Regions from separate parts of the Homo sapiens genome. Here regions 1 and 2 are each linked to region 3. The links come from fine-mapping of genetic effects on gene expression. A gene starts in region 3. Each other region holds a variant in brackets. All regions are shown on one strand. Distances are between the middles of the regions. Region 1 has its middle 34 kb from the start of MIR6125. Region 2 has its middle 11 kb from the start of TAFA2. Region 3 holds the start of USP15 (ubiquitin specific peptidase 15).

What was found. PIP is the estimated chance that this variant, and not a neighbour inherited with it, causes the effect. A credible set is the group of variants that fine-mapping cannot tell apart.
Region 1: its variant is the best candidate, but not a certain one, in a credible set for the expression of USP15 in whole blood (TOPMed, PIP 0.68).
Region 2: its variant is the best candidate, but not a certain one, in a credible set for the expression of USP15 in whole blood (INTERVAL, PIP 0.65).

Annotation. Positions count from the first base shown.
Region 1 is chr12:62,224,528-62,228,681 of GRCh38, forward strand. It overlaps a transcript of TAFA2 not described here. Among named protein-coding and RNA genes, the nearest start is that of MIR6125, 34 kb to the right of the region's middle. The variant T/C (reference allele first, on the strand shown) is at 1,971.
Region 2 is chr12:62,201,704-62,205,857 of GRCh38, forward strand. It overlaps a transcript of TAFA2 not described here. Among named protein-coding and RNA genes, the nearest start is that of TAFA2, 11 kb to the left of the region's middle. The variant C/T (reference allele first, on the strand shown) is at 1,578.
Region 3 is chr12:62,257,967-62,261,966 of GRCh38, forward strand. It overlaps USP15 (ubiquitin specific peptidase 15), which reads left to right and starts at 2,438. Exons shown (of 22, transcript NM_001252078.2): 1 at 2,438-2,537. The coding sequence starts at 2,449. MIR6125 (microRNA 6125) reads left to right here and starts at 2,393; the gene lies at 2,393-2,488. It also overlaps a transcript of TAFA2 not described here. RefSeq lists enhancers at 1,694-1,763, 2,314-2,673, 2,894-2,943, 3,667-4,000 and silencers at 2,024-2,083, 2,164-2,273.

The DNA.
Region 1 (4,154 bases), 33 kb before region 3:
CTCATTCGGGAGGTAATTATACCTCCCAAATGCCTCACCCCCTAATACCATCACATTGAGCATTAAAACTTAACATATGAATTTTGGGGTGACACAAACATTTAGACCATAGCACTGGAGTATTAAAATTCATAGACACAAAAAATAAAATGGTTGCCAGAGGCTGGGGAAAGGGAGGGATGGGGAGTTATTGTTTAATGGGTTCAGACTTTCAGTTTGGGAAGATGAACAAAGTCCTGGTAACAGGAATTGATGGTAACAGTGGTTGCACAATAATGAGTGTACTTAATGCCACTCAACTGTATACTTAAACATTGATAAAATAGTAAATTTTACGTTATTTACATTTTCGCAGATTTTTAAAATTAAAATTAAAAAATAAGTAATGGGCAATACATTTCTGAAAAAGAAGAGCATTAAAAAGGGCTTAGTTCCACACGCCTGTAATCCCAGCTACTCAGGAGGCAGAGGCAGGAGAATCACTTGAACCCAGGAGGCGGAGGTTACAGTGAGCTGAGATCACACCACTGCACTCCAGCCTGGGCGACAGAGTGAGACTCCGTCTCATAAAAAAATTTAAAAAAAAAAGTTGGTGGGGATGGTGGCGGGCTTAGTTTAATCAATTAATTAAGACAATGTGGTACTAGCACAATATTAGACAAACAGCTGGAAGAAATGAACTAGAATGTCCAGAAATTGATCAAATATAATGAGAATTTAGTTGCTTCAAGTCAGTAGAGAATGACTACTTTAGCAAATGGTGTTGGGACAATAATTATCCCTCCAGGAAATAATGAAATTGGATACACACTTTCCACCTTATAACAATAAAAATTCCAGACTGATCAGACTCAAATGTAAATAAATCATAAAGAAGCTATAAGAAATCATGTGAGAAAAACTGTTATAATCTTGAAATCAGAAAAGCCTTTCTAAGCGTGCTTCTAAACTGAAAAGCCATAAAAGAAAGCACTGATTAATTTTACTAGAAATTAATTTTTTAAATACATGAAAAAAACCCAACAAAGTTAAAAACTGGAGAAAGCTATTGCAACATACAAATAAATGCTTAATTTTCCTTATATAGTAAAGATTCCTCCAAATCAATATTAAAGAAAAAAAATGGAAAACAGAGAAACATCAAAGGAGACATTTTATAGAAAAGGACATACAAGTGACTCTTAGTCATATGGATACACAAACTTTCTCACAAGAAAAGAAATATGTATAAAGATACCCCAAAATATGAATTTTTACATGTAAGTTTGACAAGGATCAGAAAGTTTAATAACACATTCTTGGCAAAAGCATAGAGAAACAGGCAGTTTTATACATTGCTGATTGGTGTATAAATGGGTTTAAAATCTGTGGAGGGTAATTTGGCAATATTTATAAAAATTTCCAAAGTATGTGCATTTTGAGGCAGTACTCCCACATCTAGAAACTTACACTACAGATGATCTCACATAACATGCACTCCATCCTCAAAGTGTTTAGGTTTTGCCCCTCAGGTTATACCCATTGCCTTCAAGAAGTTTTGTTTGTTGGCTCTTTCTAAGATGTTCATAGTGGTGTGCTCTCTTTACTTTCTCCAGTAAGTACCTTTGCTTAAATGCTGTTGTGTTTTAGGACTCCAGTCTTGGTCTATATCTTTCTCTTGATTACTCTTTTTTTTTTTTTTTTTGAGACGGAGTCTCGCTCTGCCGCCCAGGCTGGAGTGCAGTGGGGTGATCTCCGCTCACTGCAAGCTCCACCTCCTGGGTTCACGCCATTCTCCCGCCTCTGCCTCCCCAGTAGCTGGGACTACAGGCACCCGCCACCACGCCTGGCTAATTTTGTTTTTGTATTTTTAGTAGAGACGGAGTTTCACTGTGTTAGCCAAGATGGTCTCGATCTCCTGACCTCACGATCCACCCTCCTCGGCCTCCCAAAGTGCTGGGATTACAGGCGTGAGCCACCGCACCCGGCCT[T/C]GATTACTCTTTTAAGCAATCTCATTCCACTCTCTGGGCCTTAACTACCATCAGTAGGTTAATCACCTCCAAATCTTTAATACTGATACCTATCTTGAGGCTTTTAAACCTGTGTGTAACTCAAGCCCTTCAAACCCTGAATATCTAAGAGAAAGTTTACCCCACTTTCCATCCTCCAAACACATTCTTCCTCTCATATTTCCAAAATCAATTAATGACTCTACTATTCACCAAGTTACCCAAGGCAAAAATATGGAAGTCATCTTTAGTAATTTATTCTTCTTTACTTTTCACTCACAATCAAATGGTGCCAGTTTTCCCTTGTAAACATTTCTCAAATCTGGCCCGTCCCCTGTAACCCTGCTACTGCTGCTTTAGTTCAGGCCCATCTTTTTTGGCCTGGCATATTGCAGCAGCTAAACCACTTCTCCTGCTGTGTATAGCCTTGCTCTCATCAAGGTCACCAAAGCCTTGGTAGTCTATCTGAAACCCAGATTTCAATATGGGAACACCCTGCTTAAAATCCATCAGTGAATCCCCACTTCCTTCAGCCTGAAGCCTAGACTATGTATCATGACATAAGGTCTTCATAATCCATTCCCCTTTCCTTATCCTCACTTTATTTCTTGTTATTCCATACCTTGCACTTTGTGTTCTGGTGGTGTAGAATTTCTGGTAGTTTCTTCCTCAGATCACATTATTTTTTCCCTCTAACCTCTCTTACACTCTTACATTTCTTCTTGGCTAAGCCTTATTTATCTCTCAAGACAGAAGTCGTTAATCATATCCCCCAAAAAGCCTGCTCTGAACTTCCTGGTCGGAGTAAGTATGCAGTCCTACTGTGTACAGTTACATATGCATACACTAAAGTGTCTGGCTGATGGGACAAGCAGGGGCAGCAAACTCTCTGGCAGAAGGGTATTTGTCTTTTTTTGAGAAATAGCTCTGCAGATCTTTTGCCCATTTTAAAGTAAATTATTTGTTTTCTTGCTATTGAGCTGAGTTTCTCATGCATTCTGGTTATTACTCCTTTGTTGGATAGATACCGAGCAATATTTCCTCCCATTCTGTAGGTTGTCTTTTCTCTTTGTGGATTATTTCCTTTCCTGTGTAGAAGATTTTAGCTTGATATAATAACATTTGTCTATTTGTGCTTTTGTTGCCTGTGCTTTTGAGGTCTTATCCAAAATGTCTTTGCCCAGACCAATGTCCTGAAGCGTTTCCCAAAGTTTTCTTCTCATAGTCTCAATCCTAGACTTAAGTATTTAATCCATTTTTATTTTATTTGTGTATATGGTGAGAGGGCTCAAGCTTCATTCTTCTGCTTATGGTTTGTAGTTTTCTCAGTATCATTTATTGAAGAGACTGCCCTTTCCCCAATGTACGTTCTTGGTGCCTTTTCCAAAAATGAGTTGGCTGTAAATGTGTGGATTTATTTCTTGATTCTCTCTTCTGTTCCATGGGTCTATGTATATGTTTTTATGTGGGTGCCATGTTGTTTTGGTTACTATGGCTTTGTAGTGTATATATTTACTTTGTATATACACATACACATGTATATATACACGTGTGTACATACACACACACTTATCTCTGAAATAATTGTTTTAATTTTTAATTTTTTTATCGTTGCCCAAGTAGTAAACTTAGCACCTGATAGGTAGTTTTTCAACCCTTTCCCTCTTCCTCCCTCCCCACACTTGGAATCCTTCGTGTTTATTGTTTCCATCTATGTGTCCATGTGTACGGAATGTTTAGCTCCCACTTATAAGTCAGAACATGCAGTATTTGGCTTTGGCTTGGGTTGATTTCATGTCTTTGCTATTGTGAATAGTGCTGTGATAAATATATGAGTGCAGGTGTCTTTTTGGTAGAATGACTTATTTTCCTGTGGGTATATACCTAGTAATGGAATTGCTGGATCAAATGGTATTTCAATTTCCAGTTCTTTGAGAAATCTCCAAACTGCTTTCCACAGAGGCTAAACTAATTTGCTTTCCCACCAACAGTGCATAAGCATTCCCTTTTCTCTGCAACCTCACCAACATCTGTTATTTTTTGACTTTTTTATAATAGCCATTCTGGCTAGTATAAGATAGTATCTCACTGTAGTTTTGATTTGCACCTCTCTGATTATAGTATATTTTGAACTCAGGTAGTGTGATATCTCCTACTTTATTTTTT
Region 2 (4,154 bases), 56 kb before region 3:
CTGTTGCTGTATTGCTGCAAGGTTCTGGTATCAGGATGATGCTGGCCTCAAAAGATGAGTTGGGAGGGGTCTCTCCTTTTCAATTGTCTGGAATAGTTTCAGAAGAAATGGTACCAGTGCCTCTTCGTACCTCTGGTAGAATTCAGCTGCAAATCTGTCTGGTCCTAGGCTTTTTTTGGTTGGTAGGCTATTTATTATTGCCTCAATTTCATAACCTTTTATTGGTCTATTTAGGGATTCAAATTCTTTCAGATTCAGTCTTCAGAGGTTGTATGTGTCCAGGAATTTATTTATTTCTTCCAGATTTTCTAGTTTATTTGCATAGATGTGTTTATAGTATTCTCTGACGGCTGTTTGTATTTCTGTGGGGTCAATGATGATATCCCCTTTATGATTTTTTATTGTGTCTATTTTATTCTTCTCTCTTTTCTCCTTTATGAGTTTAGCTAACAGTCTATTTTATTAATTTTTTTCAAAAAACAAGCTCCTGGATTAGCTGATTTTTTAAGGGTTTTTCATATCCCTATCTACTTCATTTCTACTGTGATCTTGGTTATTTCTTGTCTTCTGCTAGCTTTGGGGTTTGTTTGCCCTTGGTTTTCTAGTTCTATTAATTGTGATGTTAGATTTGAGATCTTTCTAGTTTTTTTTTTTTCTTTTTGAGACAGAGTCTCGCTCTGTGGCCCAGGCTGGAGTGCAATGATACGATCTTGGCTCACTGCAACTTCTGCCTCCCAGTTCAAGTGATTCTCTCGCCTCAGCCTCCCTAGTAGCTGGGCACCCACCACCATGCCCAGCTAATTTTTGTATTTTTAGTAGAGGTGGACAGACTGGTCTCAAACTCCTGACCTCAGATGATCCACCTGCTTTGGCCTCCCAAAGTGCTGGGATTACAGGCGTGAGCCACTGTGCCCGGTCCTTTCTAGCTTTTTGATGTGGCATTTAGTGTTATAAATTTCCCTCTTAATACTGCTTTAACTGCATCCCAGAGATCCTGGTACTTTGTCTCTTTGTTCTGATTGGTTTCTAAGAACTTCTTGATTTCTGCCTTAATTTCATTATTTACCCAGGAGTCATTCACGAGCAAGTTGTTCAATTTACATGTAGCTGTGTGGTTCTTTTTTTTTTTTTTTTTTTTTTTTTTTAGACAGTCTTGCTCTGTCACCCAGGCTAGAGTGCAGTGGTGCAATCGCAGCTCACTGCAACCTCCACCCCCTGGCTCAAGTAATTCTCATACCTCAGCCTCCTTTGTAGCTGGGACTAAAGGCACATGCCAACATGCCCAGCTAATTTTTGTATTTCTAGTAGAGACACGGTTTCATCATGTTGACCAGGCTCGTCTTGAACTCCTGACCTCAAGTGATTCACCCACCTCAGCCTCCCAAAGTGCTGAGATTACAGGCATGAGCCACCACACCCATCTTACATGTAGTTATGTGGTTCTGAGGGGGTTTCTTAAGTCTTGAGCTCTAATTTGATTGTGCTGTGGTCTGAGAGACTGTTTGTTATGATTTTGGTTCTTTTGCATTTGCTGAGGAGTGTTTTACTTCCAATTATGTGATTAAGTTTAGAGTAAG[C/T]GCCATGTGGCGCCAAGAATAACGTATATTCTGTTGTTTTTGGGTGGAGAGTTCTGTAGATATTTATCAGGTCCACTTGATCCAGAGCTGAGTTCAAGTCCTGAATATCCTTGTTAATTTTCTGTCTCGATCATCTGTCTAATATTGACAGTGGGGTGTTAAAGTCTCCCACTATTATTGTGTGGGCATCTAAGTCTCTATGTAGGTCTCTAAGAATTTGTTTTATGAATCTGGGTCCTCCTGTATTGGGTGCCTATATATTTAGGACAGTTAGCTCTTCTTGTTGAATTTAACTCTTTACCATTATGTAATGCCCTTGTCTTTTTTTAATCTTCATTGGTTTAAAGTCTGTTTTGTCAGAAACTAGGATTGCAACCCCTGCTTTTTTTGGCTTTCCATTTGCTTGGGAAATTCTCCTCCATCCCTTTATTTTGAGCCTATGTGTGTCTTCGCCCATGAGCTCAGTCTCTTGAATACAACATACCAATGGGTCTTGACTCTTTACCCAGCTTGCCATTCTGTGTTTTTTAATTGGGGCATTTAGCCCATTTACGTTTAAGGTTAATGCTGTTTTATGTGAATTTGATACTGTCATCATGATGCTAGCTGGCTATTTTGCAGACTTGTTGATGTAGTTGCCTCATAGTGTCTTTGGTCTTTGTACTTCAGTGTGGTTTTGTAGTGGCTGGTAATGGTTTTTCTTTTCCACATTTAGTGCTTCCTTCAGGAGCTCTTGCAAGGCAGGCCTGGTGGTGGCAAATTCCCTCAGCATTTGCTTGCCTGGAAAGGATCTTATTTCTCCTTTGCTCATGAAGCTTAGTTTGGCCAGATATGAAATTCTGGGTTGGAAATTCTTTTTTTTTTAAGAATGTTGAATATTGGCCCCCAATCTCTTCTGGCTTGTTGGGTTTCTCAGGAGAAGTCCACAGTGAGTCTGACGAACTTGCCTTTGTAGGTGACCTGGCCTTTCTCTCTGGCTGCCCTTAACATTTTTTCCTTCATTTCGACCTTGGAGAATCTGATGATTATGTGTCTTGGGGTTGATCTCCTCATGGAGTATCTTACTGGTGTTCTCTGGATTTCGTGAATTTGAATGTTGGCCTGTCTTGCTAAGTTGGGAATGTTCTCCTGGATGATAACCCAAAGTATGTTTTCCAATCCCCTTGTCTCTTTCAGGTAGTGCAATCAGTTGTAGGTTCAGTCTTTTTACATAAGCCCATAGTTCTCGGAGGTTTTGTTCATTACTTTTTATTCTTTTTTTCTCTAATATTGTCTGCCTGTGTTATTTCCACAAGATAGTCTTTAAGCTCTGAAATTTTTTCGTCTGCTTGGTCTAGTTGGCTATTGATACTTGTGGTTGCAATGTGAAGTTCTTGTGCTGTGTTTTTCAGCTCCATCAGGTCATTTATGTTCCTCTCTAACCAGAGAATAACCAGTTATTCTGTCATGTTTTATCATGGTTCTCAGATTCTTTACATTGGGTTAGAACATGCTCCTTTAGCTCAGTGAAGTTCATTATTACCCACTTTCTGAAGCCTACTTCTGTCAATTCATTCATCTCAGCTTCCACCCAGTTCTATGCCCTTGCTGGGGAGGTGCTATGATCATTTGGAGGAGAAGAGGTATTCTGGCTTTTTGAGTCTTCAGCATGTTTTCATTGATTCTTTCTCATCTTCATGAGTTTATTTAGCTTCAACTTTGAGACTGCTCACCTTTGGATGGGTTTTTATGGGGACATTTTGTTGATGCTGTGGTTGTTGTTGTTTTCTGTTTGTTTTTCTTTTAACAGTCAGGCCCCTTTTCCATGGGCTGCTGCAGTTTGCTGGGGGTCTACTCAAGACCCCTTCACCTGGGTCCCTCCTGCACCTGTAGGTATCACCAGTGGAGGCTGCACAATAGCAAAGATGGCTGCCTGCTCCTTCCTCTGGAAGTTCTGTCCCAGAGGGGCACTGATATAATGCCAGTGGGAATGCTCCTGTGTAAGGTGTCTGGTGACCACTCTTGGGGGGGTCTCACCCAGTCAAGAGGCACAGGATCAGGAACCCACTTAATAAAGCACTCTGGCTGCCCTTTGGCAGAGGGGGTGCACTGCACAGGGGGAAATCTCACTCATCCAGACTGCCTGGATTCCTCAGAGCCAACAGGGAGAAAGACTAAGTCTGCTGACCCAGAGAGACTTTGGCCACTCCTCCCCTCAGCAGTTCCATCCCAGTGATATCAGAGTTCTGTTTGTAAACCCCTGGCTGGAATTGCTGAAATTCCCCAGGGAGGCCCCACCCAGTGAGGAGGGATGGGTCAGGGTCCAGCCTAAAGAGGGAGTCTGGCCATGATCTGCCACAGCCACTGTGCTGCACTGTGGGGAATTCCTCCTGGGTCCAAACCGCCCAGTTTCCCTGGCATCAGCAGGGGAAACACAGCAGACTGGAGTGGCCATAATGACTGCTGCCCTTCCAGGAAGCCACAGTGACAATGGTTGCCCCTCCCCCTGCAAACTCAGTAGTCTTAGGCAGTCTTCAGCCAAGTGGCCACCAAGAATGTACACAGTTCTGTGTTTGGGATCCAAGGCCCTGGTGGCAT
Region 3 (4,000 bases):
CGTTGATTGCTGTAAACAAAATAATAAAGGTCAATAGAAAAATTGAAGTTTACCCAAACTTTCCAGATTCTGCAGCCAGACTGCCTGGTTTCAATTTAGGTTCTGCCACTTACTTGCCTCAATTCCTTATCTATAGACTTGAAATAATAATAGTACCAAAATCATGTGATTGCTGTGAGAATTAAGTTAGTATTTTAAAGTGTTTAGAACCATGCTAGGCACTCTGTAAGTGCTTGCTAAATAAAATACTATAATTTTATCTCTTTCCTGACTCTGATGGCAGTTACTTAGGTCTACAAAACGGCTCCATAAATCTGATGTATAATTCAAATTGGCATTGAATTTACACGTCTATATCCAGTTAACCTGCTGCCTTGAGCATGGTGCAAGTGAAGAAAATATTATTTTACTTCATTGTATGGTTGTAGCTGTCAACACTTCAAAAATGCATTTTCTCTTAAGGGAAAGTGGACATTAGGGTATAAATGATTTATTGCTACTTGGTTATGTTATGTTTATACAATGAAGGAGAGCACAGTTTTGCCTTCAAAGCCCCTAACACCTTTTTTCAATAGCTTTATTGAGGTATAATTCACATACTGTACAATTCACCCTGTCATCAATAAACAATACTAGTGTTTATTGAATGGCTATTACGTCCCAGGCAATAAACACAAATTGTTTCATTTAATCTTCATAAAAATCCCTTAAGGTAGGTATTATTATACTCAATTTTATGATTCAATTAAAGGGCAAGAACTTTGCAGCTAAAGGTTGAAGTGAGGTTTGAACTTACATCCATGTAGCTCCAATATATGTTTTCCATATTCTGCAGCTTCCCTTCAGAAAATTACTTTGTTCTCTTTCAGAGAGTGACTGGAAAAAGGGGGAAAATGTGACTTTTAGAGGGTAGCCGTGGTTAGAGAAACTCTTAATCTTTTAACCTGTCAGGAGAAAAGCCAGAAATAGCAGTCACTGAAAGTTGTTTTAAAACTCTCAATTCAAGGTTGGCATGATAATGCAAAATAGTATTATTACGCAGAAATAAGCAATCATAATCATAATACTGATATACACAAATCATAATGCCAATATACACTACTTTCACTTGGATTCAGCACTTCCTACTAGCATAACTACACCTACCTTTATCGCATTCTCACCAAATGAGTTAGGGTTTAAAATGGGCAAACGAGAAATGATGTGGGGATTCCGGCCCATCTTTTAGACTTTTCACATCAATATGGTATGTTAAAATCACACCCCTGGACATCATGCTCGGGAATACTTAAGTAATTTTGCCACAATTCATTTACTAAACAAATATTTAGGTAATTTTTACATGTCCATCAGTACTGTGCTAACCACCAGGTGTACAAAGGCTAAAACAAAAGATGAACCCAGTTCCAGCTCTTAAAGAGTTTACATTTTAGTTCAGGCTTTCAGAAGGAGAGGCAGTGAGTGTGCTATACTGTATAGCATGTGGGCTCTTGAACCAGCCTCTCCACTCACCTCTCCACCTGCTGTGTGACCTTGGCATTTGATTTTTAAGCGACTCGATTTTCTATTTTGTAACATAATCGTTGACTTCAAATTAAAGACATATCTAGTTTCATTTCAGGTGTACGGCACCATACGAAGATGGGGCTAAGAAAATGTTACTATCCTGTATAAACAAGAGGGTTTCTCGCACGTTTTCTTCCTTTAGTATCTGGCATTATTCAATACTGTCCATATTCTACTCCCTGTTCACCGATGAACTGGGACATGTTTTTCACTGCAGCTTAGTCGTCTGGGTGTGCCTGGGGAGGCGTCACAAAGAGCCTATAAAGGGTCCCCACCTACAACGGGAGTAAGAGCGCTGGAAGGAACCCAGGAAGGGCATGGAGACCAAGCGTTCGGTTTCGGAGTGTTTTTTGTGTGTGCCCATATTCACCGAGCTTGGGTTCTCCCACTCGTAACGAAAAGCCCAGTCACTGAGCTGCTACATTTTCTGCCATATCTTAGCCGTCCCCACGCCCCCACACCACCGCCCCACCCTACCTCACCCTCAAGCGTGAGTGAATGCGCAAATAAGGGTTTTCAAGGCGTCAGTGGGAAAGAGGGAGGGGAAGGCAACGCTGAGGACGGGAGGACAGGGCGGTGGCATCCCTCTAGCGAGAGAGAGCCAGAGCCCTCGGCGGCGAGGAAAGCTAAAACCCGGCAGTCCCGGGCCAGAGGAGGCCAAGGCAAGATGCTGGACGGGCGGGGACCGATGGGGGGCAGCAGACCATGGCCGCGCACCCAGTGCGCCCCCGGGGCCTCCTCTTGTCCCGAGGAGCACCCCCGCTCCCGGTGTCTTTTGGTTTCGACCGGCCGACTGGGAGGGGCCGTGGGACGCCATTCCCATAATGCTCTGGGGCGTGCCGCCGCCGTCGCTGCCACCTCCCCTACCGCTAGTGGAAGAAGATGGCGGAAGGCGGAGCGGCGGATCTGGACACCCAGCGGTCTGACATCGCGACGCTGCTCAAAACCTCGCTCCGGAAAGGGGACACCTGGTAAGAGAAAGGGGTTGAGATGCCCGCGGTTGCCCGAGGATAGTGGAGAAGTGGGCGGGAGCCGCGAGCTGGTTCTTTCGCTAGTGACAGGTGCGGGCAGGTCCGGCGGCGGCCGCCGGGGCAGCGGGATTTTGGCCGCTTCTGAAATGTTGGGGCAAAGGTTGGACTCTAGATGAGGGTCAGGGTTCTTGGCTTGCCAGGGCATGCTGAAAGGTATCCGGGGAGCGGCGGCGGCGGCGGTTCTGACTCGTGCGGTTCTCTTCGTCCTCCTTCCTTCCGTAGTGCCGCTCCCACCTCAGGCCTTCCCGAATGATAGGTTATAGTGGTTTGGTTTGAGTCTTATATACGCCGTTTTGACAGGTCCCGGTGCCGCGGCTTATCACGATCTCACCGGCTTTACTTCTCTGTTCATTTCCTTTCCTAGAATTGTCGGCGTCCAAGTTCCCTTTTATTCTGATTCTTGGTCTTCCGGGAGGCAGGCTGCAGGATGTTTGCGGTCTGTACTACACAGGTGGCATGTCAGGGCTCCACATAAGAGAAAGAAACCCTAGTTTCCAGTTCCTTGTCAAAGGAGGGAGAGGAGTAGGGAACCTTGGGCTTATGAGAGACCACGTGGTCTTGTGCTTTAGTGGTGGCTTGATAGAAGCCGGCAGCGTTTCTGTTAGACGTGCAGCCCTTCCCTTCTGTTTGAAAGATAATGTAGGCCTGCAAAAAGTAGATAAGTCCACTTGAGGCTTAACTAACTGCTAATATTCAAACTTGTAAAATACCAAAGGTTATACATTTAAAATACTGAAGGATGTATGTGGACATTTTCACACTTGTCGACCATATCAAGTGGCATCTACAATAACTTAAATATGTGAATATGTAACATAATTTAAAATTCCTTATTTTTTGGGAAGCATAATGTGCCTCTTCATTATAATAAAACATATTTTCACTTTCCACTGTTACCATAACAGTAGTATATAATTCATAGAGTGTTTCAGTATGGCATAGTGAAAGGAACAGTAAGATTTAGACCTGAGTTATGTCACAGTTTCACCACTCAACTTGCAGTATGGCTTTGAGGAGAGTTAATTTAAATCATTGCACCTCATTATCTTCATGCTGTAAAATGGACAGTAATTTTATTATAAGGATTTTATCTTGATTCGTTTTAATATCTTAAGAATTTCATATTTATGAGATATCAAATTTTAGTTATCCTCTTATCTCTGCTCTTTACTCCTGACAAAAGGCTGTGATATTGGGATCATTTTCAGTTAAGCTAATAGGTGGCAGACTTAGGACCTTAATTTAACCTTGATCTAAGTCTTAGTCTCTTTTTTCTTTTTTGGTAGGCTATATACTATGTTTGTATGATAGAAATCCCTAAGGATGTAAATACATACTTGTTTCATTATATCAAAAAAATAGAATCTTCAAGTGACTTAATAATAGTTATTGTTGGCCTGGCA